2 separate regions of the Homo sapiens genome follow, and region 1 is linked to region 2. A link means that fine-mapping ties the variant in region 2 to the expression of a gene that starts in the linked region. Tissue or cell type: sun-exposed skin. Region 2 holds a variant in brackets; the other region holds the start of a gene. All regions are shown on one strand. Distances are from middle to middle. Region 1 holds the start of RAP1GAP (RAP1 GTPase activating protein). Region 2 overlaps RAP1GAP (RAP1 GTPase activating protein).

The links. PIP is the estimated chance that this variant, and not a neighbour inherited with it, causes the effect. A credible set is the group of variants that fine-mapping cannot tell apart.
Region 1: it holds the start of RAP1GAP, and the variant in region 2 is the best candidate, but not a certain one, in a credible set for the expression of RAP1GAP in sun-exposed skin (GTEx, PIP 0.85).

Annotation. Positions count from the first base shown.
Region 1 is chr1:21,662,696-21,678,394 of GRCh38, reverse strand. It overlaps RAP1GAP (RAP1 GTPase activating protein), which reads left to right and starts at 9,038. Exons shown (of 25, transcript NM_002885.4): 1 at 9,038-9,141. It overlaps USP48 (ubiquitin specific peptidase 48), which reads left to right. Exons shown (of 27, transcript NM_032236.8): 27 at 1-97. RefSeq lists enhancers at 7,119-8,318, 11,837-12,337 and a silencer at 8,967-9,116.
Region 2 is chr1:21,627,304-21,643,002 of GRCh38, reverse strand. All of the region lies in intron 2 of RAP1GAP (RAP1 GTPase activating protein), which reads left to right. Among named protein-coding and RNA genes, the nearest start is that of RAP1GAP, 34 kb to the left of the region's middle. RefSeq lists enhancers at 2,532-3,361, 7,661-8,409, 8,410-9,158, 10,263-11,231. The variant C/A (reference allele first, on the strand shown) is at 10,757.

The DNA of each region.
Region 1 (15,699 bases), 35 kb before region 2:
ATTATCATTCTTAGCAACACGTAACCGAAGCAATATTCTTAAGAATATTGAAGGGGTTTTTTTAATTGAACTTAAGACTGGAGTTTTTCCTTTGAAAAAAAAAAAAAAGTTTTCTCTGTTGAGTCCGTCTGTGTAAGTTTGTGGCTGAGATGCTAGCTTAGGCATCTCTCTTGTTAACACTTTTCTTGGCCTTGGGTTTGTGCAAGGCTTTTTCCCCCTTTCATGAAAATGTGAACTCAGATCATGGATGGGGAAGGCAGATTTTGATTTGAGACCCGATAACCTTGGCAGCATCCCTTTTGAATAGCTCCTTTTGTCAGAGTAATTACGGCCATTTGGTAAAATTCTAACTTCGTGTTTGTGTTTCCCCTCTGTGTTTCTAATGTCTTCAGTCTGTGTCCCCTGAGGAGGCAGGGGGTCTCTAATGAGCCTATCTATGGGGGAAGGTGAGAGCTGCACACAGCCCCCTGAGAAACCATCCTAGGAGTGGAACCAAGGGACCAACTGTTCTGGCCTTGAGGTTGGCACAGGGGAAGGACTTGAAGTTGAGCTGATGGATCCTGATTTTTAGATCTCATTGTTTTATTAGCTCCAAAGAAATGAATGCAGGAGCCTAAAACTAATAACACAAACTTCTTCTTTCCCAAGGTAAAGACTTTTATAAAAGTTCGCACAATGCTTGATTGAAGCCACTTCCTTTTCCTTACAAAGAAGCTTGTTGGCCAGAGAAGGTTCTTTTTGGGGATTGACATAAACATGTTAGCAGCCCCCAGAAATCTGATATATTTTCCCCAATTTGCTGTTGATAACAGTTTTGAAATTTGTTACTTGGGTATTTTTTCCTCCTGCAATGCTACGAAATAACAGCCTTTTGTAAATCTTTCAGGCTGGTGGTACCTGCTCTGAGTACTGGCTTCTTTATTATCTCTGTCCAGGGGTGGGGTGGGCACCGAGTGAGCAGGTGATGCTGCAAGAGTCTGCCCTTGGCTCAGGGTCATCTTCCTCCTGCTCTGACAACTTGCCTTGTTCTGCCAGCACTGCTGAAAGTAACTGCAGCCCAGCGGCTCCAGTGACACTGTGAAGCTTTATTACCAAGGCAGGAGCTCAGGCCCTAGACCCGCTGAATCGGAATCTGCATCCACAGGCCACTCCTGTACTCTTTGAAACCCTGGGCTTGGGGCCTCTCCCACCCATAGTAGGCAGAGTTGCAAAGAAACGTATGCTTGTATTGAATGGTTTTGCATTGCCACCCTTCTCACTTGGTACAGGGAAAAACAGGTAAAGGGTATGACCTAAAGCCCGATTCTCGTTTCGTCTGTAATTATGAATAGATGGAGTCCATTTGCCTTCTGGACTGTGAAAAGTTCAGAGACTCTTTGTGTTGGGGTTCTAATGCCATGCATGTGTACTTTTTTATATTAGATCAGTCTCCGGTATAAGGTATTATGAAGCTTGGGTCTTTTCCCCTTGATATTTCTGACCATTCTTTAATCTGAAACGAATGTGTTCAGCATACTACACTGGTACAGATTGTCACCACGAACTGAAATATAGGCTGCATTTGGGTGTCTTCATTTCCTGGGGAGTAAGTATCTTTCTGTGTATTTATGAACTCTATTGTTTAGAATTACTGTTACCTTCCTGCCAAATTTAAAAGATATGAGTGTCCCTTTATTTCTGTGGGAGCATAATCCATAGTGAATTTTTTGGTTATTTTAAATGTGCTTTTGGTTGGTCTATGTGGTCATAGATCTGTTCATCAGACTCTGGTTAATATTGGAATCTAATGCTCAGGTTGAATAACCTGTTTTAAAAACCCAAGGGATGATTTATCTCTGTCTAAACAAACCGCTGAAGCGAAATGAGCAAGAAAGCCTGTCTTTCCTGTTACCGAATCATGGGGCAGAATCATATCCTTTCTCTTGGGTACTTTAGTCCTCAGCTCATTCAGTGTTAATAGGGGACTGCGAACAGAGTGCATGCAGATTAAAAGCCAGCGTTTTCATTTTAAGAAGATTTTCCCAGCCTGAGAAACATAGTGAGACTTCATCTCTATAAAAAAGCAAAAATTAGCCAGGTATGCCGGTGGTCCCAGCTACTCTGGAGGCTGAGGCAGGATAATTGCTTGACCCCAGGAGGTCGAGGCTGCGGTGAGCTGTGATCACACCACTGCACTCAGCTTGGGCGACAGAGTGAGACCTTGTCACAAAAAAAAAATGTGCATGTCTGTGATAACGCCCCATACTCCCACCCCCACCCCAGAGTACAGGGTTTTGTCAACAACATTTCTACTTCTGAAAGCTGGCATCACCACCCCCACCCAAAACACACACACACGCGCGCGCGCACACACACACACACACACACACACCCATCTCCTAGACATTCTGTAGGCAGAAATACTGGCTGGGGATTTATCAACATTATTCGAACCCTCTATTTTTCATTAAAGTACAAATTATAAACATTTGTAAAATGGTAGGTAGCACTTTGTTGATTTCCCTGAGCAACATTTCTGTGTCAGGTAGTGTGTGCCAGGTAGACAGTCTCATTGGCAGACAAAACCACTTCTCCATCCCATATATCTCAAACCTTGGATTTTTTTTTTTTTTTTTTTTCCATTCTGGCTGTTAATTGGGCTAAGGAGTCTGCTAGCTATCCAGATAGCACATAAACATACAGGCAAGTGTTGAAAGTGTGGAGTTGTAGAAGTTGGGCCACCTGTGTTACAGATAATTTCACCATTTACCTTGTAACCAAGAAAAGTGACTTAATCTTGCTTTACCTTAATTTCTTCATCTCTCAAAATAGCAGTATTTGCTATTTTTGTTTACTACACTCAGAGGATTAAACAGTAATAAATATTGTTGAGGTAAAAGGCTTTGTATTTTTCTTTGCATTTAGAAGAACTGTTGCCTTTCTGAGGAAATGCTGTTGGAATCTCTTTTGCAAGTCTTCAAAAAGAGGCCTTGTAACCACCTAGCAAAGCTACCTGGAGCATCTTCTCTGAGAACTTTAGAAACTACCTTTTACTTCAAGCCCTTCCAACTAAAATGATAACTAGACAGGTGTTCGACCATCCTGTCACATAAATCTTTTCTCCTGGCCCATAAGAATAATGAAGCCAATGGCCAAACTGCAAGCCTTCTCAATTCGGTGTTTTTTTTGCAGGGTCATGTCGAAAGGTATTTGAAACACGCTTAGAATGCATGTTGAAGATTTATGTCTCCGTGATGGGCAGTTTCTGCCCCAAAGGGGCAGCTTCAGTTGTTTTGATTGTCATTGCTAAGAACATCAGGAACAGATGTCTCGAGCTGCCGAGGCATGGCTCTGCGGGCACTGGGAAGCAAAGCCATGCGGAGGCCTGTGGCTGGTGCTCAGAGGTCACTTCCTGGTCTGAGAATTGCGTTTTTCATTATTTACCTGGTGATACTTAGTGAATAATATCGTTCAAGGGTAGAGTACACGAAACAGGTATTTCTTACGTCTCCCCTCCCCCAACAAATGACAGAACCAGTTATCAAATAAATACAAGATACTAACCATGTGAGATTTCTGCATGTGGTAAGGTTTAATATCTCTTTGAGCCTCACTAGATTTTAGGAAGGAGGAGGTTGCAGAATTGTGGCTTGCCAGGAGTTGTATGACCTCTTCAAAGTGACATTAGTTTAACTTTGTTTTATTTTATTTTAATTTTTGAGACTGAGTCTTGTTCTCTCACCCAGGCTGGAGTACAGTGGCACAATCTCGGCTCACTGCAATCTCCGCCTCCTAGGTCCAAGCGATTCTTGTGCCTCAGCCTCCCGAGTAGCTGGGATTACAGGTGCCTGCCACCACGCCCTGCTAGTTTTTTTGTTTTGTTTTGTTTTTGTTTTTTGTTTTTTTTTTTGAGGTGAAGTCTTGCTTTGTCACCAGGCTGGATTGGCTCACTGCAACCTCCACCTCCAGGGTTCAAGCGATTCTCCTTCCTCAACCTCCCAAGTAGCTGGGACTACAGGCACGTGCTACCACGCCCAGCTAATTTTTGTATTTTTAGTAGAGACGGGATTTCACCATGTAGGCCAGGATGGTGTCGATCTCTTGACCTTGTGATCCGCCCGCCTCAGCCTCCCAAAGTGCTGGGATTACAGGCATGAGCCACCGCGCCCAGCATTTTTGTATTTTTAGTAGAGATGGGGTTTCACCATGTTGACCAGGCTGGTCTCGAACTCCTGATCTCAAGTGATCTGCCCACCTTGGCCTCCCAATGTGCTGGGATTACAGGCATGAACCACCGCGCCTGGCCTGGTTTGACTTTAGAATTGGGACCTGCACCAGCTTGTAGTGGATTGGGCCTCTGCTGTGTCTCACCCAGCAGAGACCAGACCAAGGTTGCTGCAGAAGGGGATCCTACTGCGGAATGGGCTGCATCCCACAAGCAAAACACGGGTGGCAGGCTGGTCCTTCTCATTCCATGAGCTTTCACGCTTGTCATTCATGAGGCTGTGAATTCCCCCTCAAGTTAGCCCTAAGAGCTTGTCCAACATAATTACTGTATTGATCTCAAATAGAGGGCATCATCTGTTTCTCCCCAACATGCTTTAAAAAAAAGGGAAAAAAACCCTGCTTTCAAGGACTTGGAGGGCCTTTGAAGTGAAATTGCTCTCGGACAGGGAGGGAGGCAGCCTTATAACAGCAGCTGGAATGGCTGCTTGAATTCCAAATCTGCGTTAGTGCTGCCAGGCGAGGCAGGCCCTCAGCCACAGGAAGTGGGGCACGCACTCCAGGGAGGCCAGGAGGCCGACGCAGCCACTGCCTGGGTTGGATTGTTGCCTGCTGGCACACTGGCCTCTGCACAATTCTATCTGGGTTTTCCTTTCCCTGGTGCTCTGGTGTTTTGTAACCAAGGGAATGCTAAGCTGCAACCAGTTCCTTTTATGATCCTGGACAAGTCTGTTCCCCTTTGAGCCTCGGCGTTCTCTCTGAAAGGAAGTGGGATGTGTAGAAGTTGTCAAACATGAACTCCGTGGAAGTAGATAGTGGGGCCTCCTCCCACACCCACCTACTCCCTTGAGGAAGCTCCAGGCAGTACATTTGGAAAGCTACCAAACAGGACTACCTCTCAGGACTTCTCTTGTTTTATTAGTCTCTGAGCTGCCTCTTTGGTTGGTTTATCTGGAGTTTTTGTAGCATCTTCTCACTCATCCACAGCATGTCACTTGTTCTCTGGATGAAGGAGGCTCCAAGTCATGCTAGACTGTGGAGTTCTGGAACTAGAGTATACTGTTTATTTCCTGTACTGGAAGCCAGAGTTAGGGCCAGGCTGGATTTTATGTCTGCACCTAAAACCATTCAGTCCCCCACAAATGAATCAACCTAATTAGTGCTAGACTGTTGTAGCTCCCTGAGAGCAGGGCTCTGGCCATCTTACCACTGTATTCCCACAGCGGCCCGCATGATACATCCTCAGTAAGGAAAAATGAATGACTACTTTGGAATCTGTTAGAAGTTTTCCCGTGGCCCCTTGGGGGAGAGCTCTTTTTACTACTTTGGTTTGACCAGTACTGTCCCTACCTTCAGGCTTTTCTTCTTTGTCCTCAAAACAGGGACTTCCTAACTATTCATGATCCAAAGTCCTCTAACCCCAGGGGTAGTCTCTGTCATGTCTGCTGCACCAGGTTGGCAGCCTCCCACCCAGACGGGGGCCGCTGGCCCTTCCCTGATGCGTGTGCCCTGGCGCCGACTGCCACTCTTCATCCTGCCTTGCTGTGGTTAGAGTGGAACTGTCCTCTGCTCCAAGCCGCCCCTGAAGCCCACCCTCCTTGCCGGCCTTTCCTAGACCTTACCTGTGGCTCTGTGGACAGCACACCTTGAGGACTTGCTGCTTTGGGGTTTTCTTCCCCTACTTGCTCTGGTGGGCAGTTCCTATCTCAGTTTTTCTCCCATTTGATCTGACTGGGAAGGAGTGGGCGGGCAGAGATGGGGAGTTATTTCCAAGAGGCATCATTCCCATTTTAGGACTGTTCCCCCCTCCCTCACCTGCAGTCTCATGCATTATTTGGAGTTTACCGTGGTGCCACCCATGTTTTCGTTCTCCAGCCTTTTTGGATGCCAGATTTTTAAAGCCAGCTTTCATTTCTCAGTGATAGGGAGCACAGAGATGGTGGCTGGGTCGCAATGTATTAAGTGTCTGAGACAAGGCTTGTGCCCAGAGGCAGCCATGCGTGAGTGGTCAGTCCTGAGTGGTTTGGATTGAAATAGGACAGGGAAAGCAAAGCTCCGGGGCCTTTGTCCAATCTTCCCCCTCAGTAGCTAGGCTGCATGCCAAGCTCTGTGCCCAGCCCCCTACGGCACGTGCTGCCTCCTCGCCAGGGGCCCTGACAGTCTCAGAATGGTGCCCCCCAGGACACATGGGAGATTATAAGCCTCTTGCATTGAGGGAGGTTTTCTGTAAAGGGGAAAATGCTGTAATTGAAAAGCTCCTTGATTATAAAGAAGAAATAGAGACGCCTGGCATAGAAGAGACTTCGTTCTTTGGTCTGCTCAGCCAGGGTCGGGGACATTCAGTACCCCCAGGCTAATAGGCTCTTGAGCTCTTAAGGACCTTGGAGTCTGCAGGTCCAGACTCCAGAAGGTTATGGGACCATGAAGAGGTCACACAGCTGTACCCCTTGGCTTGCTGCATTTCTGCATCTCCAGTGCCTCCATCTGCCCCCTCCCTCCAGCTCAGGTGGGACACCTTTGTCTCCACTCAGCACTCTGGGATGTACCATCAGCAATGCCTGGCCAGAATTGAGGGTCTCTGTCTTAAAGCGTGGAGGAGAAAGGGGCCCTTTTGGAACAGGAGTTAGGGAAGCAAGAAGCATGAAGATTGTGCTCAGAATTGAATTCAGGGAGCAATGCATAAAAAAGCGAGAGGATGGGTAGAGAGATGGTGCTTAAAAGGATCCTGGAATCCATGTACTTCTGAGATCTGTGAGCCCCGCCCCTGCTGAAGATGAGCCAGCCCCACCCAGTACATGCTGCCCTTGAAGGTCTATAGGCATTCTGCTGGCATTTCCTAAGTAGGATGTATTTGACCAAGCATCTCCCAGGACCAGAGCCCTGCAGGACATACCTGTCTAGGGCAGTTGCTATGCCCCACAGTCCCTTCACCATCATCCCCAGAAGCGCCTCGGCCAGCCTCATTCAACTTCTTGCCTTTTTATTACAGTGTTTGAGCCAACTATATAGTCCTGGTGTATTCCTAGGCAGGAGATCAAAGGGCCCCCCGGGTTGGGTGGTCCATGAGTGAGCATGTGATACCGCAGGAGTCTTCCTCCTGCCCTGACAACTTGCCTTGTACTACCAGTGCTGCTCAGGATGTCTGCAGCCACGAAGCTTCATTATAAATGCAGGAGCTCAGGCTCCAGGCCCACTGAATCTGAATCTGAGTCTACAGACCGCTCCTGCACTCTTAGAAGTTTGAGAAACCCCCCTGGGCTGGGGTCTCTTTCCCATATACAGCTAGGGAAGCTTGCTGGAGGGAGGACTGAAAAGAACAAGTGCCTGATCTACCTTCCCCTCTGCCCTTTCACAGGTGGGTGGATGCGTGGGAAGAGGGTGGGGCATTTCCTGCTATTCCCCCTTATTCACCTTTTCTCCACGGGGATTAGAGTCTTGACCGGAAAACATGGCTCTGGTCCCCAGCCCCTATGGGACTGAAAACCCGGAGGCTTGCATGTCTCAGATCCTCCAGAGGCTGATGTAAGAGTTGCTGAAGACCTCGGATCTTTCCTTTTGTGAAATGCAGCCCATGTGGCCGGGAAAATAGTGGGAGCTGGAAGTAACAGTTGTGGTTTTAAGCACACAGTAGATGCTCAAGAAATATATTGAGTACATGTCTTGGACTTTCCCCTCCCTAAATATTATCTGTCAAGTGGGCCTATTGGACTTGTTGACCTTGGAGGGCCCTGTCGGCTTGACCCACCAATTCGAAATGGTTGAGAAAGAGGTCTGTCTTTGTACCTTTTGCAGCCTGTTTTCCCAGTTCTTAGAACATTGGGGTGAGATCCAGAGATTTCAGAGATCCCCCTGGAACACGAGTGTTCTGTGACGAGTTCATGACCTTGGAGCCACCAACCATACCCCTCACCCGTTGTCCCCAGTTCTGGCCTTGCCGACCCACTGCGTGTTTCTTTGCTTCATGTGGGCTGTTCCCCGGGGAGGGAGCTCAGTGGAGAACAGAAAGAGGTGTGGGTGAGGGCTCCCCCTTGGTGGGGAGTGGGGCACAGGAGCCTCAGGCTCTGTTGACCATCAAAGAAGGGACTCGAGTGGGCAGGCCGCTCACTTGCTGTGGACCTTGGGCAAGTCTCTAACTCTCCCTGGGCCTTGGAAGTCAGGCCGAGGTGATCTCTGCCGCCCCCTCCCTGCCTGGGTTTTCACTCTTGTTCTGATCCCACTCTCTTCCGGGTGCCTCCCTTCCACTTCTCCGTAGCCTGTGGCTCCCCTCCCCACACCCGCCCTGGGCCCGGGTTAGGCTGGGGCGGGGGCGAGCTGCCCAGTCCAGAGACAAAGTCCAAGAGCCGCGAATGGGCTGGCGAGGGTCAACCGCGTGGCCTCTGCCAGGAAGCGCGCCGAGCGCCCGGGTGAGGAGGGCGTCAGCCAGGGCACAGCAGCTTTCTCGCCCAGCGAAGCCTGTGCGCCTTCCTCCCGCGCCTGCAGACAAGCGGAGCCCATGGGGGCCGTGGGCCCCACCTATCCCGACGTCTCCACTTGATCCAGAAGTTGTCCCAGTCCCCTTGGAGCATGAGCTGTTGCCTGGACAGCTGGGCTGTCGCCCAGGTTCTGCCACTGTCTAGCTGTGTAACCTTGAGCCAGTCCCTGCCCCTCTCTGGTCCTCAGTTTCCCCACCTGTAAAATGGGGGCACCGAGAACCCTCCTCCAGGACCTGCGGCGGGGCGGGGCGGCAGGGCGGGGGCCTCCCCGCCGCTCCCGCGCCCGCGGCTTGGGCTCCGCAGTGAGTGGGGAGCGGCGCCGGGGAAGGAGCGCTCCGCGGTCATGTGACGTCCCCCTCCCCGAACTGCGGCGGCGGCGAGCGCCGGCCGCATCTGAGCAGAGCTGCAGCGGCGGCCGCGGGCACCAGAGTGCCGAGCCCAGGACGCCCCCGGCCCAGGCCCTTGGGTGAGTGCGCCCCGCCAGGGCTGCGGCCCTGGAAAGGGGAAGGGGACAGAGGTGTCCAGACTCCCGTCGGCTCGCAGCGAAGACCCCGCGCGGGCGGGCGGGGACGGAGGGTGGGGGCGAACGCGTGGGGGACCCGGGTCTCCAGGGGCGAGGGGTGGGCGCAGCTGGGCTCGCGCAGCCCGGTCTTGACAGCAGCTGGAGAAGTGGGGGGAGGCCTGGACTGAGCCGGCTGAACCCCCAGCCTGTTGGACTTGGTCCAGGCCGCGGCCAGGGGGCTTTGGTCCCACCCCCCTGGGTGGGTGGGGAGTCCAGTTTTCCGCCCACCTCGAGGTGGGGGCGCCTGGGGTTTAGAGGAGGGACTGTGGGAAGTGGGCGCGTTTCCTCCATCCCTGGGGAGGGGCCCAAGCCCTAGCGCCCCCCAGAGGGTGGCGCTCCTGTCCTCAGAGGAGGGAAGTGGGGGCCTCAGATCAAGGACCCTGAGCGGGGAGGGCGGTGATGTCCTTGCATCCCCAGAGACAGGACGCATTCCCCTGTCCCTGACCCCCGCGGCAGAGCGGGGCACACGCGTCACGAAGTTGGGCGCCCCCTCGTCGCCTCCCCTGGCTCGGCAGGATCTGAGGACTCGGTGGGAATTCACGGGGCGGTTTCCGTGCCCTGCAGGGTTTGGTGCCAGCTGCGGGGCGCCTGGGCTTGGGGAAGAAACCTTGTGTACGCACACCTGCACACACACACAGTCTCCGGAGGTGAGCGGCCCCCTCCCTACCATAACAGACCCCAGCCTGTGCATGCCCTCGGAGTCCTTGTTGGGGTCATAGCACAGGCCCGGTGGTGGGGTCAGGAAGAACATCCACTGTTCTCAGGGCTCATTGGCCTCTGTCCCCGGGCTCCATTCCCCTCCCTGCCAAGTCAGAGGTCAGGCCCCTGGGGCGGCAGGCAGGAAGGACACTGAGGGAAGGGGCACTGAGGCAGGAGGGGCACTGAGGGAAGCTGGCCAGGTGGAAGTAGGAGAGAAAGGCAATGGGGGTGAGATGGTACCACTTCCTCCCCATATGAGGCTCTCAGGAGGCTCCTGGCCCCCCCTGCACAGGTAGTGGTCCCTCCTTCCTGAGGGTGTTTGGGGGAAAACGCTATGGTTGGGGCACTGGGGAAGGTTGCCTCGCAGATGAAACAGAACATTGGCCAAAGGTGTCCCTGAATGGGCTTCTGGACTGGCACAGGGCCCTGAGGGCTGTGGCTGAGTGGGGAGGCAGTGATCAGGTCCAGCTGGCCATGGGGGCCCCCCATTCCCTTCTCCATGACCTCAGCCTCACTCTGAGAGCCCCCAGCAGCTGGAAGGTCTGGTAAGGGGTGCGTGTTCCTTGATGGCCTTGGGAAGGGTTCCAGGGTAATGATTAATCCTCAGGTGGCACGAGCAATTTCCCCCTTCACAGCAATATTTCAGGGCAGGCGCTGAAGCCTCCATTGCACAGGTGAGGAAACTGAGGCTCGGAGAGGCTAAATGAACTGCCTGAGGTCACCTAGTCACCTTCAGCAAGGTCTAGAATCGTGGTACTCTGACTCTTGATGGGAGAAGATCTCCACAGCGGTGGAGAGGAGGAAGGGTGAACGCCGTGGTGGAGTGGTCCATGTGGACCTGCTCCCCTTTGCTGCCAGGAGGTGAGGGTGCCTGTGGCTGGAAGCTGGGTCAGGTTGAGGAGAGGGTCCAGAGTCCTAGGCTTGCCTTGCCACCCCTTCCCATGGAGGGAGGGTTGTCCCGTGGAGCACCATAATGGTGCTTTCACCCTGGGACCTTCCCAGCTTGCTTGGGCAAAGCCCTCTCCTCTTCTCTTCTTCCCAAGGTGCCTGCCTGGCAGGGGTCTCAGGAGGCCCCTCTCCTGGCTCTAACTACCTTCCACCCTTAGGAGACAAGAAGGATTCTTCCTTTGGCCTCTTGGAGGGCAGCAGGGAGAGAGGTCTCTGCCACTTAGGCCTCAGGCTCCCACAGCAGGGCCTCCACCTCCCTCTCACCTGGCCCTGCCCCTGCCCTGCTGTCAAATTCTGGGGCCAAGAGGCCCTTTGAGGACTCCTCGGGCAGATCTGTCCTCCATGCTGCCATCTGTCTACGGAGGCCTTTGTCCTGGCTGTCAGAGGCTGCTGAGCAGCCGCATGTGCTGTGCAAACAACCGAGACCTGAGCACGGCCAGACACAAACGCAAATACAGTTAGACTGACAGATACCCTGAGACCCAGACACAGGAACACACGGGCACACCCAGGCCAAGACCCCTGCCCCCGACTCTGCCTGACACACAAGCACTGAGAGTCACACCATCCAGATGCTGGCACGTGTGTACACACAGAGAGACGGAGGTTGTCAGCAAGGAGAAGAGCCTTTTCAGAAGCCCTCGTCTTCTGTCGTCTGCCTCCATTATCTCCTCCAGGGTGCACACATGGTACACGCGCATGCAGGAAGAACACGAGGATGCCCTACGCCCTTAAAAATGAACCTGGCAGACACGCACATGCACCCACCCACACCCAGGCCATCATGGGTGCACACACGCATGAATTACATCAGCTTCCTGCGTGTGGGATGTTAATGCTTCATCACCCGGGGAGGGGAGTGGAGGCCCCCGACCGTCCCCAGCAAAGCCTCCCCTTCCTCCCTCTTTTCTGATTCATGTGGACCCAGCTTGACTGGCCCCAAGAATCCTGGGAAACTGCCTGGTGCTTCCCACTCAGTGGACCCTCCTCTCCTGCCTCCCCTCTGTGTACATACCCAGCGGGTTGCCACGGGAGCCTCTCCCCAGGCTGCTCCTTTGCTGTCTCTGAAGGTGTTGTTCTGCAGGTCCTTCCCAAGACAGGACAGGACCCAGTGCAGGCTCCAAGCGGCTCTGGGGTTCCCTTTCCTTTCCACTTTTGCTAGAGGCATTACCAGGCCCCAGTTTCTGCTTTGTCCTCCCAGCAAGGCTGGGGGCCAGCTGGTGTGAAGGGAAGGGAGCCCTCAGCACTCTCTGCTCACCTCCTTGCATGCCAGGACCTCTGCCAGGCTGGCCCTGGCACCCTGTGCCTCTGAGAGACTGGCGCTGTGGAGAGGTGCTTCTGTGGGCTTAGGTGAGGCCTCCAGGGCAGACATGCTAGATGGGGAGGGGCTCCCAGCTCCACCATGCTCCCTCGGCACTCACACCAAGCCTGCCAGAGTGCTGATTCCCTGTCCAAGCCTGGCCCTGCCTCTTGCTGGCTGTGTGGCCCGGACAAGTCATTTTCCCTCTCTGGGCCCAGCTCCAGCTCTGGGAGGCAGCTCAGCCTGGCTGGGGGATGAGGAAAGTCAGAGGTGTGAGGTGGCAGCCCTGTGCCAATAAGGAAAGGAAGTTGGGCTCTGGTGGCAGTGTGGGCCCATGGGGCCCCAGGCTGATGACTTCCTGCAGAGTGCAGCCTCTGGATCCACACTAGGGCCAAGCAGGGGTCGCCAGTCTCAGGGCTTCTTGGGGCGGCCACCCTGGGGTCAGCCCAGGAGGAGGGTACCCAAGGGCAGTGGGCTGCAGCTATGTTGCTCACATTTGTGGACATTTTATGCCTCAAAATGTGCTCTATATTTAGGGCTAAAGACCAGCACTGTCAGGCAGGTGGTGACTCAGAGAGGAAGAAGGGAAAAGAGGCAGAGGAGTGCTGGTGGGGAGACACCCCAAAACAGAAAGGTCCCACTGGGATTCCAGCCTTTCCTACTGCAAGAAAGGAAGCAAAACATGATACTCCTGCTTTGCACCAGCACAATGGGAGCAGCCTCGTGTGCCTACTCACTAAGCATTTAATGAGCATGTAGTGGATCCCAGGGACTGTGACAGGCACTGGGGCACAGAGATGAGCTGGGTCCTGTGGTCCCTGCCACAGCCCGGTGCTTTGTGTCAGATGAGGAGGTGAGGCTCAAAGAGAGAAAGTGACTTGCCCACTCTACAGGTTAATACCTCTGCCAACCGAGGCCACCCTCCCTCGGACCCCCATTCGGAGGAAGCAGACCCAAGTTCGAATTCTGACATTGCCACTGAGCAGCCGTACAACTTTTGGTGAGTTCCTCTCTCCCTCTGAGTCTGTTTCTTGATCTAGGAAGTGGGAATCATAGCACTTGCCTGATGAGTATGTTTCAAGGGATAAGAAGGTGAATGCAAGCAAACACTGAGGGCAGTGCCCAGCTTATCCTAGGCATTCTGCTGGGTCTAAAAGGACATAGATTGGGAGTCCTCAGAATGCCAAATCCAGTCTCTGCTGTGTGACTTTGGAAAAATCACCTGCCTTCTCTGTGCCTCATTTCTTTCTCCCTAGAACGGGGATGACGAGCTTTTATTTGCCTGCCTCCCTGGGGATGTTGTTTGCGAGGCCAGACATACTGGCTGGGAACTGCTTTGAAAAATATAAAGCTGCACTCAGAGAAACACAGAGAGACACACTGAAGGAAAAGCAAACACAAATCTGGAGAAAAATCTTTTCTAAAAACATCCAATACTTCTCTACAGCCAGAAAAAAAAAATAATAAGCCTTTTCTTCAGTGTTTTGAGAGTAGTGAGAATTTTTTCCGTAACTTCGCATTTCCAAAGTAGTTGGCATGGCTATCACCAGGTGAGCTGGGTAAGTTTCCTCCTTGAGGAGTCCTTGCCTGGCACATATTAGGTGTTCAGTAAGTGATAATGTTAGTAGTAGAATTACCAGTTGCACAGCAAGAGGAGAAGTGGAGGCGCTCCTGGAGGCGAGACCAGCTACGGCGTGGGCAAGGGCTGGGGGTGGCAATGTGGACACTGGGTTGGATTCATGGAAGGTGGGGGTAGGGACAAATCGGGGTCAGTCTATTAAGGGCCTTGAATGGCAGGCCGAGGAGTCTGCATTTCCCCAAAATCAATGCAGGATACACGGGAGGGGCAGGCTGAGCCCACTAGCCTGGAATGAGGAACCACCTGGCGTAGTTCTCTGCCCTGCCACTGCTGTGTAAGGATGGCCCCCTCGCCTGTTTCCCTGGGCCTCATTTTCTCCCAGTGTGCAAAGGAGAGGATTCCAGCCTCTTCCATCCCAGGGGCAGGCAAGAGGATCAAGGCACCAAGCCACCCGGGAACTAGGTTGCTATGAGAGCTGGAGAGCCGGGGGCTGTCATTGGTTCAGGAAGTCAGGAACCTTGTGTTCCGCTTCTGGCCCCACCCCACTAGCTGGGTGAGCTCAGGCAAGCCGCCCGGCCTCTTTGAGCCTCCCTTTCCATCTGTGGAATGGGAGGATGTAGTTTCTGTCTTTGCAGTACAGCTCCCATGAGTTGAAGCTGGTGACTGTGTTGTGTGAGCCTCAAGTGTGTTGTTGTATCTCTGGGGGAATTGCAGTATTTCTTGAAACTACAGTACCTGTTCCTCAGACTCCCCTGAGACGGTGGATCTGCTGGCAAGGCTGGGGTTTGGGGGCAGTGGGTGAGGATCAGATGCCTGAGCCACCTCAGAGGCTGTGACCTTCTCAAGGCCACGGGAGCCATGTGTCTGCCGCAGCCAGGCTGTGGGGGCAGCAGAGGGAAGGTGGAGGTGGGGCAGATGGGTCCAGCCCTCTGCTTGGCTCCTGAACTCTGGGCCCCAGTTCTGCGAGGGAAAGCCACCCCAGTACCCTGCTCAGAGGACAGCCCTCTCCAAGGCCTCACTCCTTGATTCAGGGCTCGAGGGGTAGGGTGGAGGTGGCTGATGGAGGGTGACCTTGGGAACTTCTTCCTGCCTGCAAGCTCGGTGCCAGAACTGCCAGGGCAGCCCTGATTCTTCTTGCTCAAAAGTTGGCAGCGTCAGGGACCCTCGAGAGGCTGCCAGGACAAGGCCTGAGCTGATGTCACCATCACCAGCCTCTTGCGTCTTCCCCTGTGTTGGAGGTCCAGAGAGAGGCCATCCACCCGCTGGCAGACTGCTGTAGGCACTGTGCCCACCCGGGCAGCAGGCTCAGGATGCCATGGGACTGAAGACTCTAGCCTTGCCTCATTCACCACTTGCCTTTCACTTGAGGTGTGGGAGCTCTGCCAGGGATAGAGGGTTGCCCTTACAGCCCCTCTCCCAGGGCTCCCTGCCTCTAGAAACAGGACTGGGCAGAGCCGCTGGGACAAAGACCTCACCTGTCCGAGTCCCCAAAGCCCACAGCCCTCCCTGGCTGGAGAGGTGTGGGCTCTGTAGTCCTCCGAAGGGCAGAGAAGCCTGGGTCCTGCACAAACTCTACAATGCTGGGCCCACCCAATGGCAGTCAGGGTGGGAAGTGGGCAGCTAGCTCAGGAATTCTAGGAAGATTCTGGATGGGGGGAGGCATGATGGGGCCTGAGCAATTGGATGCAGGTGGGGGCATTCATTGAGCACTTGCAGTGTGCTGGGCCCTATGTAAGCACTTTTCATGGATCTATCTCATTTAATCCTCTTAGCAACCCTCAAGGGCTCAGAGAGGTTAAATAGCCTGCCCCAGGTCACCCAGCTGGTGAGTGGCTGGGGCTGAGATTTGAATTGAGGGTTGTGTGACTCTACTTTTAGCCATTTCTGTGTACTGCATGCAGAATGAGAAGGGGTTGGGGAGGGCGCCATACAGAAT
Region 2 (15,699 bases):
TCAGAGAAGGGACTCCTGCCCACATCTGGGAATCAAGGAGGGCTTCCTGGAGGAGGTGACTCAAAAGTTGAAGTGGGCCAAGTGGCAGTGTGTGTGTGTGTGTGTGTGTGTGTGTGTGTGTGTGTGTAGTGGGGAAGGGAGGTGCACTGTGCGAGAATGTTCCAGGGACAGGAGGTGGCAGGTCAGCAATGTGGAGGAGAAAAGTGTGTGGTGGCACATGCTGGATTCAAGACTGAGTTGGGCCTGACAGGTGAAGGGAAGAGAGACAGCCACCAGATCATGTCCCTGTAGGCCCTGCTGGGACTTCTGTGGGCTACGCTGGAAGGCTCTGAACCCCCCAGCCACCATGGGAAGAGGCCTGCTAGGGTGCCAGTCGCCCATCCTCCTCCCTGCTCCAAGGAGCTGCTGTGTGAGACTGAGTCAGCCGCAGCTCAGGGAGGCCCTGACTGTGCTCTTAGTGCAGGGCTGTGGAAGCCCTGGAGCCAGAGTCTGGGCTGGGACCGCAGATGCTGTCTCGGCCACCAGCTGGCTGGGTGACTTCTCTGGATCTCAGTTTCCTCACCTGTAACATGAGGGCAATAAAAGTACTACCTGGAAGATTGGTGGGGGGATTAAATGAGATAATGGGTGCCAAGGCCTGAAACCAGGGCCTGGCACAGAGCACGTACTCCGTCGATGCCAGCTATTGCGGTTACTGCCATCATCGCGGTCATGGTTACCTGCTGCGCCTGCAGTGGGTGCGGAATTGCGCTTGGTGTGTAGACTCTGTCCTCTGGAAGCTTGCTGCCTGCCAGGGGGTGACCTGACTGCCTACACGTGACTGTACACCCCAGCCGTGGGCACTGGCCTTAGGCACTGGCCCTGAGAACACTGGCTTTGGAGTCTGATGGGCCTGGTGCCAGGTCCTGGCCAGTGACCTTGAGGAGTCCGTCACCTTGCTGAGCCTTGGCTCATTCCTTTGTGCAGTGGGGGTGTTCATGGCCCCTGCCTCACGGTGAGTGAGAGGCAGTGAGGAGGTGCTTTTAAAGGGCCGGCCGGTGTAACAATGCAGCTGTTTCTGACCCCATGCTGCAGGAGGGAAGAAACACATGCCTCGGACCCAAGTGACCTAGAGAAACATCACCCTCCCTCTCAGAGGCTCATTTTCATACCTATGAAATGGGAAGGTTGGCTGTGATACACTCTGATGTGCTGGGGTTCTAGTGGAGTTAGCTTGTCCCTAAGTTTGACCTGGTCCAGCTGTTTGCTGTGTGACATTGGGCTAGAGACTTAACCTCTCTGAACCTCAGTTTCCATGCCTGCAAACGGGCAATGTTCACCTCCTGGGATCTTTCAGGGCTTCCATTAGCCACTCGTTAATTCAACAAATACTTACGGAGTTCCTACCACATGCCAGGTACTAGTCTAAGAACTGGGGATGCAGCAGTGAACCTGACAGACACGGTCCTTGCTTCACGCATGTTATCCTCCAGTGCAGGAGACAGACAGCTAAGGTAGCTTCAGATGGGTAATGTGTAGTACGGATGGGGTGGGTGCAAGGCCTGGCTTTGCCAAGGGTATCAGGGAGGGGCCTCTCTGAGGCCTGAATGGGAAGGAGCTGGCTGTGGGAAGAGTAGTCCAGGCAGAGGGTAGAGAAAATGTAAAGGATTGGGGGCAGGAATAGGACTCCTTCCCCCGCCCCAAAGCTGGAACATTCCAGATCATCTCCTGGCAACAGGTGGAGGTGGCTGAGAAGGCAGAGAGGCTGGAAGCCCACTTCTTTCAGATCAGGAACTGCTCCCCAGTCAGGTGTGGTGGCTCATGCCTGTAATCCTAGCACTCTGGGGAGGCCGAGGTGGGTGGATCACCAGAGGTCAGGAGTTTGAGACCAGCCTGGCCAACATGGTGAAACCCTATCTTTACTAAAAATACAAAAAAAAAAAAAAAAATTAGCTGGGCGTAGTGGTGCATGCCTGTGATCCCAGCTACTCAGGAGACTGAGGCAGGAGAATCGCTTGAACCCAGGAGGTGGAGATTACCATGAGCCGAGATCACACCACCGCACTCCAGCCTGGCCAACAGAGCAAGGCTCCATCCCACACACACACAAAAAATAACTGCTGCCCACAAGACAGGCCCGGTGGGGTGGTGGGGAGTGTGGGCAGCCATGGAAGACCAGGCTTGGCTTGAGTCTCAAGTGAGCTGGGCTGTGCAGGCAGGAGGCTGGGCTCCAACCTGTAGGAGCAGGCAGGGGTGGAGCTCACTGCAGGGCAGAGTCAGGCCTCCAGCCTGGAGCCCACCTGACTGGATCTACCTGGCGCAAAGACCCTGGACCTATTTTAGTCGGGGGTAAGGGAACTGCTGCTTGTTCTCCCCTCACCCCAGCCAGCCTAGGCACTGGCCCCAGGTTGCCTTGGCCTTTCCCAGCCCAGCTGCCTGCAGGCTGAGGAAAGGTTCTTTGAGATGACCCATTACATGTACACACACACATATTTCCCTACTCACACTCATAGACTTGACCCTTGTAGAGACAGCTTCATCATGAACATAGAGGCACAGACATACACATTCATTCATGCAGCAGATCAGACCCAAACAGACCCAGGCATGACCTGAAGAAACCCCATTTCTAGCAGGAGAGACTGACAGTGGCTTAATGGTCACACCATGAAATGTGCAAACGCAACAGGTAAATCCATGAAGGCCCAAGACAGGCTTCTGGGAAAGCTGGTCAGGTTCGGAGCAGCTTCTCCTGGTCTGGGGAGGGGGCTCTGGAAGACTGAATACAGACATAGCACCTGAAATGTGATCCAAGCGGACGGGAAGGGGGTAACAGGCAGGGGGCACAGCGTGTGCAGTGGCCTGGAGGTGGGAAGGAGCACCTCGGGTTTGAGGAGCGGAAAGGAGTCTGGAGAAGGAGGAAAGAAGCCCTGGATGAGGCCAGAGACAGTGGGCGGGTGGGAGGGGGGCCGGGGATGGGGAGCAGACACGCAGGGCCTCGTGGGCCACGTGAGGCGGGCGTCTGGATCCTGCTTGCGGCGGGAAGCCATTGGGGCCTTCTAGGCAGGTGGGTGGTGTGATCAGATCCAAACATGCGACACAAGCGCTTTCCCTCCCACACCCATTCACGCTCCTGCCGGGGCCTCCCATCTCCATTCTCACCCACAGAGTCACACACACCCTCTCGCACCACCAGGCAGAGCTGCGGAACACCCGGTGCCGACTCCCAGGAAAAGTGTCAGACGCTGCCCCGCCCACCGGCTGAGTCTGTGCGGCAGGGCCCTGGGGTCCAGCCAGGGTGGATCCTTGCTCACTCCACATCCGCACAGATGTGCCTGTGCCCCCCGCCTGCCCCCACAGGAGTGAGGTCATAACTCTTCTCTACACGTGCAAGGTGGCTTCTAGCTTAGGACGTACTTTCACGTGCATTCTCTCATTTAATGCTCTCAGCAGCCCTGCAGGGAGAAATTCTCAACACCATTTTATAGCCGAGGAAACAGAGGCTGAGAGAGGTGAAGGGACTCTCCCTAGGCCACACAGCTAGAGCTTGGCACAGGCAGGATTTGAACTCAGTTCCGTTTGACTTTCAGGTCTTGTTCTCTGGCCCATCCAGACTCAGACACACTCAGGTGTGACTGTCACCTTTCCAGGCTGTCACTGAGAAGGTGACAAGTGACCTTCAATGCCAAATCCATCCACAAACAGGTTGATCAACACAGAAAGTTATTTAGAGCTCCAGGGAAGGGCCTGGGCTGGGACGTGCCCACCTGCCTGGTGACCCTGAGGCTTCTGGGGGTAGTGCCAGGGGTGGGGCTGGGCACCTGCCAGCCTGGGGCAGCTCAGGGCATGGAGCCCGCGCTAGGAGCAGAGCCTACATTTGCATTTACAAATGAAGTAGACAGCCCTGTCCCCACACATGCTAACCCGGCTGGCCTGGCTTGCAGGACGTGACAGCTGAAGTCACAGGGCACATCCCTGGGCCCAGCTGCCTGGGCCACTTCTGTGCTGCCTCTGCTCTTCCCTGACCCTCGGAGCAGGTTGTCTAATGCCTAATGTAGGGGAAAGAGTGTGGGCTTGGGAGCCAGCCAGAATGGGGGTGCAACCCAGCTCTGTGACGCCTGGCTCAGGGACATTGGTCATGGTGTTTAGTCTCTTTTCGTGTCAGCTTCTCCCCCTTGGAATAAGGGGTGAGTCATACCTCCCTCTCAAGGTGATGGAAAAGGGTAAAGCAGTCAGGTGCTCAGGGAGCTGAGTCATAGTGAGTGCTCAGCTCTCTAAAATCTTTAATTTTTTTCTGATTACACAAATACTAAGTGTTCATTATAAACATCCAAACCGTGCAGAAAAGTATTTGCCACAGAAAGCAGAAGTTCCTAGTGGTCCTGCTTCTCAGAGATAAGCCATGTAAACTTTCTTTTTGTTTTTGTTTTTGTTTAAAGAGAAAGAGGACGGACAGACAGACACAGCCCAACTGGGCTTCATCCCACTCAAAATTCTGAGGGCTTTTGGGCCTCAGGGTCCCATACGCAGCAAGCCCCTTTTCTCTCTCTCTTTTTTTTTTTTTTTTGAGACAGAGTCTTGCTCTGTCGCCCAGGCTGGAGTGCAGTGGTGCAATCTTGGTTCACTGCAACCTCTGCCTCCTGGGTTCAAGCGATTCTCCTGCCTCAGCCTCTTGAGTAGCTGGGATTACAAGCATGCGCTACCATGTCCGGCTGATTTTGTATTTTTAATAGAGATGGGGTTTCACCATGTTGGTCAGGCTGGTCTGAAACTCCTGACCTCAAGTGATCCACCTGACTTGGCCTCCCAAAGTGCTGAGATTATAGGTGTGAGCCACCATGCCCGGCCTTTTTTTCTTTTCTTTTTTTTTTTTTTAATAGGATCTTGCTCTGTTACTCAGGCTGAAGTACAGTGGTGCAATGTTGGCCCACTGAAGCCTCAACCTCTCAGGCTCAATCAGTCTTCCCACCTCAGCCTCCTGAGTAGCTGGGACTACAGGCATGCACCACCATACCCGGCTAATTTTTGTGGTTTTTTTTTTTTTTTTTTTTGGTAGAGATGGGGTTTTGCTATGTTGCCCAGGATGGTCTTGAACTCCTGGCTCCAAGAGATCCGCCTGCCTTGGCCTCCCAAAGTGCTAGGATTACAGGCGTGAACCACCACTCCCGGCCAGCCATGTAAACTTTGACATGTAATTTTAAATTTTTACAAATGAGATTTTTGTTGTGTGCAGCCCGCTTTATTCACTTAACAATATGCCTCAAACCCCCTTTTCCATCAAGACTAAAGACCTTCTTTGTCATTGCTGTATAGTATTCCATGGTTTGATATATTTAACTAATCTCCTTGTAATGGACATTGAAGTGGCGTCCAGATGTTTGCGGTTGCAAACCCTGCTTCATGACTTTTTTGTTCATATATCTTTATGCATTGGTGTTATATTTCTGGAGAATAAATGCCTAGAAATGGGGTTGCTGGACCAAAGAATATGCACATTTTAACATCCATTGCCTCTGCCCTCAGTTACAGGGATCCTAGAGTCATCAAGAGGCAAAGAATTCCAGATGTGGGGCTGGATGCAGTGGCTCACTCCTGTAATCCCAGCACTTTGGGAGGCTGAGGCAGGTGGATCACTTGGATCCAGGAGTTCAGACCAGCTTGGGCAACATGGTGAAACCCTGTCTCTACAAAAAAAAAAAATTAGCCGGATGTGGTGGCATGCACCTGTGGTCCCAGCTACTTGGGAGGCTGAGGTGGGAGGCTTGCTGGAGCCCAGGAGGCAGAAGTTGGAATGAGCTGAGATCTCACCACTGCACTCCACCCTGGGCGACAAAGTGAGACCCTGCCCCCAACCACCACCAAAAAAAAAAAAAAAAAAGAAAAAAAAGAATTTCAAATGTGGGAGGCACCTTGAGGTCCTCCAGTCAAACCCCCCACCGCTCCTCCCGTTCCCACACCTTCAGATCTCCCTGGCTGCACCTCTGAGAAGCTCACTCTGCCTTTGCTTGATGCAGAGCTCGGTACCTTACATGGCAGGTTGCTCAGGTTGCTTTCCCTTCCTCCCTCCCTCCCTCCCTTCCTCCCTCCCTCCCTCCCTCCCTCCCTCCCTTCCTTCCTTCCCTCCTTCCTTCCTTCTTTCCTTCCTTCCTTTTCCCTCCTCCTCCTCCTCCTCCTTCTTCTTCTTCTTCCTTTCTCTCTCTTTCTTTCTTTCTATTTGAGATGGAATTTTGCTCTTGTTGCCCAGGCTGGAGTGCAATGGCATGATCTCGGCTCACTGCAACCTCCATCTCCCGGGTTCAAGTGATTCTCCTGCCTCAGCCTCCCGGGTAGCTGGGATTACAGGCGTGCGCTACCACACCCGGCTAATTTTTGTATTTTTAGTAGAGATGGGGTTTCTCCACGTTGGTCAGGCTGGTCTCAAACTCCCGACCTCAGGTGATCCGCCTGCCTCAGCCTCCCAGAGTGCTGGGATTATAGGCATGAGCCACCATGCCCTGCCTAGGTTGCTTTACTCTTGGGCAGCTGTGTTTGTCCCATCGTTTCTACCTTCTCACAACTTCCACCTAGGAGTCTTGTCTCAGTCCTCAGGCACCTACAGAGGAAGGAAGAAAGGAAGGAAGAGAAGGGAAGGCCAAGAAATGCTCATGGTGAATGTTAAGCACTTTACACCAATGAACTCATTTAACCCTCAGAGGTCAGCACTGCTATCCCCATTTTATAGATGAGGAAGCTGAGGTTCATAGTGGTTAAGTAACTTGTCCAAGGTCACACAGCTGTTATGTGGCAGAGTTAGGATTCGCACTCAAGGATCTGGCTCCAGAGCCCACACTGACGCTACACTGCCTCTCTAGGCAGGAGCCTGTAATTTATTGAGCACCTACTGTGTCCTCAGCTCTAGGCTAGTCAGGTTGTCCATATAATACCTAATTTATTCCACACAACAACCCTGCAAAGTTGGTGTTACTCTCCCATTTTGTAGCTGAGGAAACTGAGGCTCAGAGAAGAGAAGCGACTTAGAAGAGTCTAAGGTCCTCTCCACTGGGAAAGCCCTCCTTCAGGGTTCTGCTTCCAACCAATCCTTGGTGAACTCAGTTTCCAGTTTCTCATCCTCCCATTCGTCCTCTGTAGGATGAGAGAGCCGGCCTGAGACCCAATTTTTAGTAGAGAAACTGAGGCTTGGAGAGGTTATGGTGACTTAATCCTGCACACACTGTGATCTGGGGGCAGAGCTAGGGCTTCCCCATGTCACCTTTGGTTAGGAGATGGTGACCTTGTCTATCCCCGTGGGGGTTTCGCCTTGGCCTGGGTGGTCACCCCGCCTGGGGAGTTGTGAGGGGCAGGGACTTCTGCTCACCAGACTGGCCTGGAGCCTATGAGGCAGCAACCCCAGCCCCAGCTAGGGCTGGTGCAGAGCGGGAGGAAAGGATTAAGCAAGGCCTCAGTGCTGGGGGACTCACTGTCTAGGCAGTGAAGCCAGAGGCTCCTCAGGAACAGTCCAGGCAGGTATCTTTGGGGCTCTGCTTTGGGACTGGGGAGGCCTGGTTCACCCCACTCTGATCCCAGCACCCAGCACCATTGTCCACTCCAGAGCAGACCTCAGGACATGTGTTCTGAATGAATGACTGAGCAGAGGAATGAAGGGCAGATGGGGGAGTGGGTAGATGACCGAGTGGGTGAGTGAGCGAAGGAATGCCTGGAGCTCAGAGAAGGGAGACCCCCTGGGCTGCGGAGGCTGGGGAGGGACAATGAGGTCAATGTAGGGAGTGAGGAGAGACAGAAAGCATAGGCGGCTGTAATACCATGTATGGGCTGACGGGTGCTGGGAAGGTCACCCTGGCCCAGACTTGCCCATCAGTGGGAGCTGTGTCCTGCGTGGACGTGGGCAGGGGGCAGAGCAGCTGGGGCTGAGCTTCGGGGTGGAAGCTTGGAAGTCACCATCTCCATCCAGGCTCCAGTTTTCTTCCAGGCAGAATGGAGATTAGCATTACTGCTCTGTGTTCCTCAGGAGGCTGTTGAGAGGGTTGATGGCAAAGGCAGTTTGTAAACTGGAAAGTGCCAGGCTAGGGAAGCAGATGATGTTGTTGCCCGGCAGGAAGAGGCCCTGCGGCCGGGTCATCTCAGAGTCACTCCTCCTCCTTACCCCAGTGCAGGGGAGGAGTCAGTCCACACTGAAGTCCTCGGTGGGGTGGGAAGGGTCAGGTTTTGGCCACAGTGGGGCTCAGGCCACCTGAGCAAGGGAGACAGATGCTGGATAGACAGCAGGTAAATGGGTGGCCTGGTTCCCAGATGCTGTGCCCTGGGCAGGGACCGGTCCCGTGACCACCTCTCTAGGCTGCCAACCTGTTATTTGTTCAGGAGGCCTCTGCCTGGCCCAGCTCCGGGATCCGGGTGTCTCGGCATGCAGCCAGCATGGGGCGAGGGTGGCGGCCCCATGTGCCACCTTCCTGCCCATCCCTCTGCCCAGCTTGGGGCCTGAGTCTCCCACCCACACCCCCAGGGGGACCCTGCCAGCTCTGTCACTTGGTAGCTGTTGAGGCCCTTGGCCCATCATAAACCTCACTAAGCCTCTGCCTCCTTATCTCTGAAATGGGTGAAGATAGCATCCTGAGGTCAGGGTTGTTGTCATAAGGATTGAATGACATCACAGTGCCCGCATGGCAAATAGTCCCCCTGCCGCTCCTCTACCCCATCGCCACGCTCCCTCTAGAGTCCTAGGAGAGGTCAACGGTGCCCAGGGAAAGGGGACACAGGAGCCTCCCGTGCCTGTGCCTGTCTGCTTAGGCTCCCAGTGGGCTGGGGAAGAGGGGGCCAGCCTCTCCAGACCTAGCTTTGGAAACCTGCTCAACTGGCTGCCCCGGCCACCTTCCCTGGCACTTTGGCAGGGACAGGGGCAAGCCAAGGGGAGGGCAGTGCCGGCTGGTTGAGCTCAGAAAACAATGGGCTTCTGTGGCCCCCCCCCCCCCCCGGGAGGGGGCAGTTCTGGGGCAGCCACTTGGTTCTGGTTTCAGGAGATTCGAGTCCCCTCAGACCCGATGCCCAGGGCTAGGAGACCCGGCTCTGGCAGCCCCCCAGCCCTCATCCAAAGGAGCCTCTCTCAGGGTTGCCCTCCACAGCCCTCTTCTCACTGGGAGGTCTGTGCCCTTGTCCTCATCCTCCACCCCACATGGGTGGTAGAACTTGGTAGAACCAGGTTGATCTCCTGGAAACCAGGAAGACCCCAGGGAACTGGACCCAGGCCTTCCCCTCCTGACTTCTGATGACCAGTGCTGGACTGGCCGGAACCCCTCAGGCCCCTGTTCCAGGCTGCTGCCCCCAAAAAATTCTTCTCTGCCCTGTATTCATTGGCTCCCTGAACCCCTCCCCCGCCCTTCCAGACCACTCCCTCTTTCCGTGTCCGGTCTCCCAGCCTGTGTGCAGTGGGTGGCTGTCCTCAGGGTGGGCTCCTCCTGCTCTTGCTCCAGGCACTGTCACCTGTCCAGATCCCCATTCCCCTGCTCCCGGTCCCAGCCTTCTTGCCTTGATGGTCCTGTACCACCTGCCCTGGCCACCAGAGTTTCACCTGGTTGAGTTGAATTTCAAAGCATCAATGGTTCACTAGGCAGAAAAGCAGGAGAAGGCACCCCCAGCAGAGGGGGGGTGCCTGTGAACAGTGTGGCTGGTTAGGAAAGCTGCCTGCAGCCTGGGGAGGTTAGGACAGAGCCAGGACAGGCGGCTGGGGCAGGACAGGAAAGGGGAGGTATGAGGTTGAGGCTGGAGGGAGTCAGCAGGGGCTGGACCCACTGGGAGACCACCATCCAGGGCAGCTATCTCCGGGGGGCCAAAGGGCCAAGCCCACCACCCAGGACAGCCCCACCACACTTCTGGTGCCCTGAAAAGGTTGGGCTCTCCAGGAGAGTGGCCAGTAATAATAATTACAAGCACTTTATAGCAACTCTATGAGGTGGGTACATTATCTCTCATTTTGCAGATGAGAGAAAAAGACAGGACCCTCTCACCACCCCTCCAGCTGGTTAACAGTTGAGAATCACCCTAGGAAGGCATCTGGCCACCTGTGCTTGGTCTCCCCCTCTGCCCAACCATTCCTGAGTCTGACCCTGATGTTTTGTTGGTCTGTTTCCATTGTATAGATGGGGTCTTGCTCTGTCGCCAGGGCTGGAATGCAGTGGTACCATCATGGCTCACTGTAGCCTGGAACTTCTGGCTCAAGTGATCCTCCCACCTCAGCCTCCTGAGTGCCTGAGACTATAGGTGTGAGCCACTGCAGTGGGCTGGGTTTTTAATTTTTTTGTAAAGATGAGGGCTCACTTTGCTGCCCAGGCTGGTCTCGAACCCCTGGCTTCAAGTGTTCCTCCCACCTCAGCCTACCAAAGTGCTGGGATTACAGACATGAACCACTGAGCCTGGGCTGACCCTGCTGTTTTGCAGAGTATGGAACTCTCTTGAGATCTTCCCACCCTGGACTGGTGGAAGGCCTGTGTTCTTATCCCTGATCTGCTGCTCACGGCCTTATTGGCTGACTTTGAGGTCGTGTTTTCACCTCTCCAAGCCTCAGTTTGCCCTGCTGGCAATTGGGGATCCTAGTGACTGCCTTATCTCCATTCCAGTTCCGGTGAGAGTCCCAGGAGTGAGCAGATAAAGAAGGCTTTTGAAAAGTACAAAGAACTGCACTCACGATGGTGCGATTATTATTGTTACCTCGATGCAGAGATAAGGGAGGGGGAGGAGGTGCAGTGACAGTTGCCAAGAAACCGGGGAGCTGTCAGCAGCGGCTTCCGGC[C/A]GGGCCCATCCCACTTAGGAGCTGGGCCCTTCCCCCACACCCTTGCTTCACCCTTTCCCTGGAAAAGATGGGTGCTCTCCCCGAGAGGGAGAGATAGCTGCCACACAGACACAGGGGCTGAAGGTGACCCCGGAATGTGCCTGGCCCAGACTCCAGGTTGGCTCCAGCTTTCCATGTGACCTTGGGCGGGTCACCTCCTCTCTGGCTGCTCCCATTTCATGTGTCAGAGGAGGCAGCGTGCAGGTGTCCAGGCCAGACAGAGCAGAGCCGGAGCTGGGCCTAGGGAAGGCGCTTGGCGGTGGCTGCAGGAGCCAGGGCCGTGATGGGAGGTCATGGGGCAGGAGGCCAGGTGACGGGACTGAGGGCCTGGGCTGAGGACAGTGGGATGCACGCTGTGGAAGGGACACTGGACTGGAGTCACATCTCAGCCCTGCCCTTTCCCATTGTGCGACCTGGGGCTTGTCACTGAACCTCTCTGAGCCTCAGTTTTCTCATCTGGAAAAAAGGTTTATATCTCATCTGGATTTCTTTTTTGTTTTTTGTTTTTGTTTTTGTTTTTTGAGACAGAGTTTTGCTCTTGTTGCCCAGGCTGGAGTGCAATGGCGCAATCTCGGCTCACTGCAACCTCCGCCTCCTGGGTTCAAGCGATTCTCCTGCCTCAGCCTCCCAAGTAGCTAGGATTACAGGCGCGTGGCACTACTCTCAGCTAATTTTTGTATTTTTAGCAGAGATGGGGTTTCGCCATGTAGGCCAGGTTGGTCACGAACTCCTGGCCTCAGGCGATCCACCCGCCTCAGCCTCCCAAAGTGCTGGGATTACAGGTGTGAGCCACCGTGCCCAGCCTCATCTGGATTTTTAATAAGTTGCTGTGGCTCTGGAATGAGACAATGCCAGTGTAAGCTCCAGGGTGCTGCACAGATGTGACCACGGTCATGGCAGGGGGAAGGAGGAGAGGGGAGAGCGCCCCATGTCCCGGCATGCTCTGGGCTCCCCGCAGCTGCTGCCGCCCAGGAGGAATGCAAAGCATTTTAAGCTGAGCCAGGCCAGGGGGTTGGATGGTTTTTGGAGACGTGGGGAAGGGATAGAGACCAGGGGGACATCCATGATGTGAACTGAATGGAGAAGACCAGGAGGAGACCAGGGTGGGATAGGAGAGAGAAGGGGAGGGACAGAGAGGTTCGGGTTCGTGAAGTGGGAGGAAACGACCACATTGTGGGTGGTCTGCAGAGGCCAGAGGAAGAAGGGGATTGGAGGGGTGCTGGGAAAGGTGGGGCAGAGATGGGCGAGCTGGTGAGGAAGGCTGAGCAGGAAAGGACGTGAAGCAGAGAAGGGCAGAGGGCTGGTGAGGAGGGAAGAGGCTTTCATTCATTGCTTCAAAAGTATTTATTGGGGCCAGGTGCAGTGGCTTATGCCTGTAATCCTAGTGCTTTGGGAGGCCAAGGTGGGAGGCTTATTTGAGGCCAGGAGTTCCAGACCAGCCTGGGCAACACAGCAAGACACCCATCTCAACAACAACAACAAAAAATTTATTTTTAATTAGCCGAGCACACACCTGTAGTCCCAGCTACTAGGAGGCCGAGGGGGAAGGATCACTTGAGCCCAGCAGTTCAAGGCTGCAGTGAGCCATGATCATGCCACTGCACTCCAGCTTGGGTGACAGAGCAAGACCCCATTTCTTAACAACAACAAAAGGTCAGGGGCAGTGGTTCATTCCTGTGATCGCAGCACTTTGGGAGGCTGAGGTGGGAGGATCTCTTGAGCCCGGAAGTTCCAGACCAGCCTGGGTAACATAGGGAGACCTCATCTCTACTAAAATTAGCTGGGCATGGTGGTGCCTGTAGTCCCAGCAACTTGGGAGGCTGAGGAGGGAGGATGGCTTGAGCCTAGGAGTTTAAGGCTGCAGTGAGCTTTGATCACGCCACTGCACACCAGCCTGGGCAGCAAGAGCAAGATCCTGTCTCAAAAAACAAAAAAAAAAAAGGGAAAAAGAAAAAAGTATTTATTGAGCAACTACTATTTACTAAGTGTCAGTGGTATAGTGTTAAGGGCACTGCAACCAGATGTTGGGGGAGGTCAAATCTTCAGACTTTCATTTACTGTGTGTGACCTTGGACAAGTTACTTAACCTCTCTGTGTCTTAGTTCCCTCCTTTGAAAAATGCAAATTAAATGAGTTAATACAATAAAGTAGAGCAGAGCCTGCACATAGTAAGCTCTGTATCAGCTGTGTCGGCCGTTGCTGTTGTTACTATTACCTTTCCGACTTGACTTGAGGTGCTGGATCGTGTTCCTGAGCTGGAAGTCGTAAGGCTCTGTGGGGAGGTCCACAGGATTGGACGTACATGTTATAAAGTTCAGATCTTGGGCTCTGAAGTCAACAAACCTGTGTCCAAATGCCTGGCCTGCCTCATTGCCTGTGTGAGCTTGGGCAAGTTAACGCACCTTTCTGAGCTTCGTGTGGAAAGCAGGAGGTTTCTGAACATCTGCCTCTTTGGGGAACTGTGAGGATTAAATTAGATTATGCAAGACGCCCGGCAGGACGTGGCTTTGTCATTCCTGTCCCTCTTCTACCCCTTCAGGTCTGGGGATGGATGGACAGGCAGTGCCCAGAGCCTCCAGTTTCCTTCTCTGTCCCCATCCTGGAGCCCCTCCCTTCCCCTGCCCCTTACGGCCTCAGCAGTGGCTTTTTAGGTGGAGTTGCCTTCGGGGGACAGGACTGTGGCCAGCCAGGAACTGGAGAGCCAAGGGCCCTGGGATGGGGTCCCAGGTGCAAGCCAGAGCACCCTGGCCTTCAGAGGCCGCTCTGGTTCTGCACCCACATGAGCAATCCTGAGTGAAATGGACACCTACACATGGGGAGACTGAGGCAGAGAGGGTTCTGGAAGGGGGTTTGTCAGGGACTGCTGCATGGCTATCATATGAGCCTAGGGGAAGACAGAAGGGCACCGCTGGACTAGCCTGATCACAAGCAACAGCCGCCACTGGGCAGCCACGGCCGCACCCAGCACTCCAGCTTTACCGGGCTTCTACCCCAGGACTTCCTGACCCCCAGGCAGCCTCTGCCCTCCACCCCACTGCAGGATCCCTACTTCCTCTAGGGCATGTACTTTAAATTCCAGCTCCATCCCCCATTCGCTAGGGGAAGTGGCTTCACCTCTCTGAGCTTCAGCTTCTCCATCTGTGAAAATGGAGAGAAATAACACCAACCTTCCTGCACAGTAGTTGGGGGAGAGTATATGCTTGACGCAGTCCCAGTCACATAGTAGGTCTCACTAAAGAGTCCCCATGGGAGCCTCAGTGGAATTGCCTGGAAGCCACCCTCCCTCCCTTCCTCCCTTCCCCCCTCCTTTTTTTTTTTCTGAGGTGGAGTCTCCCTCTGGAGCCCAGGCTGGAGTGCAGTGGTGTGATCTCAGCTCACTGCAAACTCTGCCTCCCAGGTTCAAGCAATTCTCCTGCCTCAGCCTCCCAAGTAGCTGGGGTTATAGGTGCCCACCACTGTGCCCAGCTAATTTTTGTATTTTTTTTATTTGAGATGGAGTCTCACTCTGTCGCCAGGCTGGAGTGCAGTGGCGCAATTTCAGCTCACTGCAACCTCCGCCTCCCGGGTTCAAGCGATTCTCCTGCCTCAGCCTCCCAAGTAGCTGGGACTATAGGCGTGCACCACCATGCCCAGTTAATTTTTGCATTTTTAGTAGAGACGGGGTTTCACCATGTTGGCCAGGATGTTCTCGGGATCTCTTGACCTCATGATCTGCCCACCTCGGCCTCCCAAAGTGCTGGGATTACAGGTGTGAGCCACCACGCCCAGCCTGTATTTTTTTTTTTTTTTTTTTTTTTTTTTTTTTTTAGTAGAGATGGGGTTTCACCATATTGGCCATGGTTGGCCAGGCTGGTCTTGAACTGCTGACCTCAGGTGATCTGCCCGCCTTGGCCTCCCAAAGTGCTGGGATTACAGGTGTGAGCCATCACGCCCAGCCTGCCGGTAACTATTTCTATGGACCTCTCTTTAGTCCCCACCCTCCCACTCCAGACTCTCCCCATGTCAGTGTACCCTGCAATATGCAGGAACCTGTGCGTAGGGATGTTCCTTTGCTCACAACCCTTCAGTGACTCCCAACCTTCATTCATTCATTCAGTCATTCAACAAATAGTGAAACTTGGGGAGCCAGAGTTTACCATGAACAAATGATGTGAAAGTTTTCATTGAGTGAATTCCCATGAGCTGCCCAGGCTCTGCGATGAATGTTTTTGGAAACTGAGGCTGAGAGAGGCTGTGTCACTAACCCAAGCTCACCTAGCCAGTCAGTGTCTGAGACTATCTCCCCCACACTGATGCCACAGGCTTGAAATGCCACTGCCACCATATCTGTCCTTTTGGGTCAAGCATTGCCCAGCGCAGACCCCTCTTGTAAGATGCCATCACTCCTGGGAGGTGGAGAGGCCTCCAGTGCATAAGTGGGGCTGTGGATGGTTCCTCCGGGCCATTTCTCCTGCTGGAGTAGCTGGGCTGAGTGGAATTAGAAGGGAGGCTCAGACTGGGCGCAGTGGCTCACACCTATAATCTCAGCACTTTGGGAGGCTGAGGCGGGCAGATCACCTGAGGTCGGGAGTTCGAGACCAGCCTGACCAACATGGAGAAACCCCGTCTCTACTAAAAATACAAAATTAGCCAGGCATGGTGGCGCATGCCTGCAATCCTAGCTATTCAGGAGGCTGAGGCAGGAGAATCGCTCGAACTCGGGAGACAGAGGTTGCAGTGAGCCGAGATCAAGCCATTTGCACGCCAGCCTGGGGAATAAGAGCGAAACTCTGTCATAAAAAAAAAAAAAAAAAAAAAAGAAGAAGGGAGGCTCACAGCTTTCTCAGTCTTCTTCCTGGGCCAGACTTTTTCGGGTCCTTCCCCTCTTGGGGTGTGGCAGCCCCGGCTCTGCCTGACTCAAGCCT